Regions from separate parts of the Homo sapiens genome. Here region 2 is linked to region 1. Evidence: fine-mapped expression QTL. A gene starts in region 1. The other region holds a variant in brackets. All regions are shown on one strand. Distances are between the middles of the regions. Region 1 holds the start of QSOX1 (quiescin sulfhydryl oxidase 1). Region 2 overlaps TOR1AIP1 (torsin 1A interacting protein 1).

What was found. PIP is the estimated chance that this variant, and not a neighbour inherited with it, causes the effect.
Region 2: its variant is fine-mapped to the expression of QSOX1 in whole blood (INTERVAL, PIP above 0.99).

The regions. Positions count from the first base shown.
Region 1 is chr1:180,153,438-180,156,353 of GRCh38, reverse strand. It overlaps QSOX1 (quiescin sulfhydryl oxidase 1), which reads right to left and starts at 1,485. Exons shown (of 12, transcript NM_002826.5): 1 at 1,182-1,485. The coding sequence starts at 1,446. LOC105371636 (a long non-coding RNA gene) reads left to right here and starts at 1,516. Exons shown (of 2, transcript XR_001738314.3): 1 at 1,516-2,355. RefSeq lists an enhancer at 1,211-1,310 and a silencer at 1,491-1,810.
Region 2 is chr1:179,906,025-179,908,940 of GRCh38, reverse strand. It overlaps TOR1AIP1 (torsin 1A interacting protein 1), which reads right to left. Exons shown (of 10, transcript NM_015602.4): 7 at 1,077-1,118; 8 at 268-336. Among named protein-coding and RNA genes, the nearest start is that of TOR1AIP1, 25 kb to the right of the region's middle. RefSeq lists a silencer at 1-105. The variant TG/G (reference allele first, on the strand shown) is at 1,512.

The sequences.
Region 1 (2,916 bases):
AGGCCGTGCTAGCGACCTAGCACCAGAGTCAGGAAGTAACTCCATTCAGAGGCAGCAAGTCAGGAACAAATCACTATCACTATACCACTCCTGCCCGCCAAATACCCACTACCTGGATTAGGTGGATGTGTGACACCACAGGAATCTTTAAATTGTGGAAAGGAAACTATGAGACAATGTATGCCGAGTACTTAGTAAGGTGCCTGAAATGATAGGTGCTCCGTAAATATTAATTACTATTATTACCATATTTCCTCGACTCTAAGTCTTAAGTGTTTCAAAATTTTAGCATTTCTGTAATAGAGTTCACCTTCAAATCTTTATACATGTAGTGGTTTTTTCCTATCCTTCTACCCCTTGGGCTGTCATAAAATGAACAGTGTGTCTCACAGTTGATGGTGTCTTGGAATTCAGGAAATATAGTTTTGGTGCCCCAACCAGGGATTGGGAACATGGAGCAAGAGCCAAACACGCACCAAAGGCCTCTGGGTGCATGGGTTTAAAATATAAGGGTCTGAGCGGGGGAAGAGAGAGAAGGATGTGGCCCAGAAGCTAAGGAGCTGGAGGCGGCAGGTCAGGAGAGGCCCGGAACAGAGATAGGAAAACTGCCAGGTGGACATACCCACATCAAAGACAAAAATGAGAAAGGAAGTCTATGTACCACCTGGTCAACCAGTCGAGGGAGTGGAGAAAGGTGGCAGGGAGGCAAAATGGATGTCCGTTCCCTTTTCTCCCCAGCACTGACCCACAGCAGCTAGGGAACCTGGCAGGAAGATGACATGGGTCCCTGGACGAGAGGAAGAGGACTGCCACAAGGCTGGCCCAGGAAACGGTAAGGTGTCAGCGGACCATGCGGAGGAAGGAACAAAGGAGACCTCTCGCAGGGAAGGAGGCAGTAACCTGGCGGGGGACGAACCGGGCGAGCAGGGCAGGTCTGGGGGCCCAGGCCGCGGAGAGGGAAAGAAGCTCGGGATGAGGGCCAAGAGGAAAAGGCAAGGGAGCGGGAGGCAAAAATGGAGCTGAGAAACATGAAGGTGGTGGGCGTGGGATGCGCGGAGAGGAAGAGGTGGGCGGAGGTGACTGGAAGAGGGACGCGCTCCCGGAGTAGGAGGCTGCCCACCGGGCAGGTGGAGGGGTCCGGGCGGCGGGGCACGGGGGAGCGGGCCGCCCCCGCTTCTCACCTTTGACGTCTTCGGCCAGCGCCTTCCACGTCGGGGCGAAGGCGATGCAGTGGCCGCACCAGGAGGCGAAGAACTCCACGGCCCAGGCGCTGCGGGAGCCCAGCACCGCGCCGCGCACCGTGTCCGCCTGCAGCAGCGTCAGCGGGTCGGAAGGCGAATAGAGCGCCGACCGCGGGGCCGCGTTAGCGCCGGGAACCGCGAGCAGCCACAGCAGCAGCAGCAGCAGCGACGGCGGCGGCCCGGAGCCGCTGTTGCACCTCCTCATCCTCGGCGCTGCGCTCACCACCACACGCAAGCACCGGATGAGTCGGGTCCCGGCGCCGCGGCACCGCCTGCCTCCGCCCGCAAGGAGGAGCCACGTGGCCCCGCCCCTGAGCCCCCGCCCCCGAGCCCCCGCCCCCGAGGCCGGCCCAGCCACCCCGCCCCGCCGGCCGCTCCTGGGCGCGGGAGCGGGCGGGGCTGAGCTTGTTGCAGGGGCTGGCCCTGGCCGGGTGGTGAGCCATCCTTTCGCGGTCCGCCGAGGCCTCGGAGCAGCGCGACCCGGGTTCCCGCCTCAGGCCCCAGGAGGCGAGGTGTACAGTCCGGTAAAGGAATGGAGCGCCCGCCGAGCGGTCGCTGCGGGGGTAGCCTCGCGGAGGTTGTTTGGCCTCTCACGGCCCCCGTATCCAACGGAAGAGGAGTCCGTTGGAATAGACGACCCGGATTTCGGCTGTTGTAGGGCAGTTCCTGGGCTCCCGCGGAGCGATGAGACGTTGTGAATTAGATGTGAGAAGAGGGACGCTTGGTCTGCGACCACCAAGACCCCACAGGATCGATGCACCCACCCCTGCTGATGACCATGACCATCTAAAGGGGAACATCATTTGAGGGGCCCTACTCATGGATCAGAAGCCCCTCTTCACTGTGGGGTGTGCTGGGTTGGCGGGCAGTTGCCGTGGAATCAGTTTCCTCAGGACCCATATCTGACCACCCTCATAAGGTTGTCAGGGCGATTCCAACATTCGGGGTTCCCAGCAGCCCAGATCCCCCACATCCAGCTCTTCAGCCTACTCAGAGCTCTCCACGCTCACTCACATGTCCCTCTCGCAAGTAGCCCGATCAACTCACCTGGTGTCATGGGCACTAAGGTGTTAATGGATTTTCTCTGGTCACCTTTGCAGCTCCACTGTTTTGAGTGAGTTATTTTAAGGGGAGAAGGTGCTCCTCAGACGGTTGTCACAGTGATATTTTTCCTTTGTGACTGCCAGGTTAGCCCCTTTCACCTGTAAGAGCTTTGAGCCTAGATTTGTTATTCATTTATTCAAGTTTTACTGAGTGGTGTCATGCCAGGCACTTGTTTAGGTATAAGGATAAGGCAGTAAACAAAATATAGACTCTAGGGACGTGGAACTTACATTCCAGTGGGGGTAAAGAGATGATACATAAGTAAATGTAGATCAGATGGTGACCGATGTTATGAAGAAATGTAGACTGGGGTAAGAATAGAGTGGCAGAGGAGGTGCTATTTTACACACGAAGATCAGGGACAGGTCTACCCTTAATATTTGCAAGAACTGAGTCAGTAGTACAAATGGAGGCCCACATATCATGTCTACATATTTTAAAACTACAAATTAAACGGTGATGTAAAATTCCTATCCTTTTATCTTGACATGTATACCTTCATCATAATCTGGAAGGCCACATTTAAGTTTAGGATTCTTGGACCCTTCTGAGATACGCCCTCGAATGTAGT
Region 2 (2,916 bases), 250 kb after region 1:
ACCCACCTCGGCCTCCCAAAGTGCTGGGATTACAGGCGTGAGCCACCGCACCTGGCCAATCTCTGGTTTTCTCACGCCACTATTTACATTCTACACCCAGCCCATGTGCTGCCAGTCCAAGAAATTACTAAACTAGTAATCATAGCTGTACTTTATTAGTGAAATCACAAACAACCTAAATGTTTATCTGAAGAACTAAATATTTTTGTCAAGAAAAACATAGCAAATACACAAGATTATTTCAATAACAGAGATTTATCTACTTACTTTGCATCCTGGTCCTTATTCTTGCAGTTTGTGGGGCCCATTCCTGGGGAGTTTTTTGATATCCTGAGCCTGAAGCAAATACATATATCAAAAGATAATTTCCCATACTTTGAAAGTTTATACCATATTCCAGTGTTATAAAATTAATCTATCAGAAAGACAAAATAAAGTAGGGGAAGAAAACAATAAAAGCAATAGTTTTATAAGTAAAAGATAATTTCAAAGGATCGTATCAGTGAGGATGAACCACTTCCTACAGCAAAGCAGGTAGCAAATAAATATATTATCACATAATACAAATTACTTGTGGTAAAATAGCCCTGAACACATTTCCATATCACAGAGTAATTATTATAGGTAGTACCAATCCGTGGTGAATTAAAAAGGTAAAGAGGGGTAAAATGACTTAAAATCTTATTACAACTTTTGTTGGGAGAATAAGGCAAGGTTAGAATTGATTGACTGAGGCTGGGTGCGGTGGCTCACACCTGTAATTCCAGCACTTTGGGAGGCCGAGGCAGGTGGATCATGAGGTCAGGAGATCAAGACCATCCTGGCTAACACAGTGAAACACCGTCTCTACTAAAAATACAAAAAATTAGCCGGGCGTGGTGGCGGGCGCCTGTAGTCCCAGCTACTTGGGAGGCGGAGGCAGGAGAATCGCGTGAACCCAGGAGGTGGAGCTTGCAATGAGCCCAGATTGCACTCCAGCCTGGGCGACAGAGCAAGACATCGTCTCAAAAAAAAAAAAAAAAAAAAAGAGAAAAGAATTGATTGGCTGAAAAAAGAGCAGACAACCAACTACTTACTTAGCACTGAAGGTTGCTTATCATGAGCTGTGAAGTTTTGACCTGAAACAGAAAACAGGGATAAGGTCATAGAATACTTGAAAATAACAACAAAAAAGATGTTGCACAGACATTTTGCTTGTTTACTGTGGATACTAAAAACAAACAACAGACAAAAAACATTCTCTCATCAATTCCAAGCATATAAATATATAAAGTATATATATATAAAAAACATACATATACTATATATATACATATATATACATATATATATATATATATATATATAAAGTGTGTGTGTATTTCTTTCCCCCTCATTTCTAAACTTCAAAATGTTTAGGAATTGGGCAACAATAAGGAGTTAGTTTAGGATCAGTACCATCAAAATAAAAACTACATATAGTCATATATATCAAGTATAATTTTGTTTAATTCTTTTTTTTTTTTTTTTTT[TG/G]AGACAGGGTCTGACTCTGTCACCCAGGCTGGAATGCAGTGGCACAATCTCAGCTCACTGCAACCTCCGCTTCCCAGGTTCAAGATATTCTCCTGCCTCACCTTCCCAAGTACTTGGGATTACAGGTGTGCACCACCATGCCTGACCAAATTTTTTGTCTTTTTAGTAGAGACAGGGTTTCCCCATGTTGGCCAGGCTGGTCTCAAACTCCTGACCAGGGTTTCACCATGTTGGCCAGGCTGGTCTCAAATTCCTGACCTCAAATGCTCTGCCTGCCTCGCCCTCCCAAAGTGCTGGGATTACAGGCATGAGCCACCATGCCCAGCCAATTTTGCTTAATTCTTATGTGGTAGATGCTATTACTGTTCGTATTTTATAAATAAGGGAAAATCAGCTGGATGCGGTGGCTCATGCCTGTAATCCTAGCACTTTGGGAGGCCAAGGCAGGTGGATCATGAGGTCAGGAGATCGAGACCATCCTGGCTAACACGGTGAAACCCCGTCTCTACTAAATATATAAAAAATTAGCCAGGCGTGGTGGTGGGCGCCTGTAGTCCCAGCTACTCGGGAGGCTGAGGCAGAAGAAGGGCGTGAACCTGGGAGGCGGAGCTTGCAGTGAGCTGAGATCACACCACTGCACTCCTGCCTGGGCGACAGAGCGAGACTCTGTCTCAAAAAAAAAAAAGGGGGGGGGGGAACCAAAATTGGTAATTTTTCCAAAATTATATATCTAAAAGTAGTTGGGCTGAGATACAAATCCAGGCAGTCCATATCATATACCACATACCATACCATAAAGAAATGGTATGTACTATCTATGCAGATTTATGGACATTGCAAAGTAGCTATGAAGTAAAACATGCTACTTCAGGTTTTGAGGTGGTATTTAAGGATAACTGTAAAATGACACAATGGGATGACTAAAAAATGACATTACAATTATAACAAGGTAAATTTTCAAATCTGCCCTGAGAAAATGAGTTACTCTTTGATGATAAATACAAGTATCGATTTACATTTATTTATTTTCAACTTTTTCTGAATACAAACATGTGCTAGCTGTTTAAAAAAAGGGGCCATTCTAGAAATGCTTAATTTAAAAATTCATGAATATCTATCTGTTAAGTATCTACTATGTGCAAAACATTGAACATAGAAATATTATGGTAAATAAGACAGATATTCTCTCAGCTTTGTTTTCAGCCTATACTAAAAATATACTTTTAAAAAAGTGGATACATACGTTTTAATATTTTCATCAAATTCTAAGACATACTTTTTAAAAAATGCCCTTTGATCTACAGATATATCTTTTAATTAATGGTATGGCATAGTTTAACTGGATGGTTTTTCTTTCTCATTGATACATAAAATCAATAGTATCTTAAAGTCAATGAAATATAT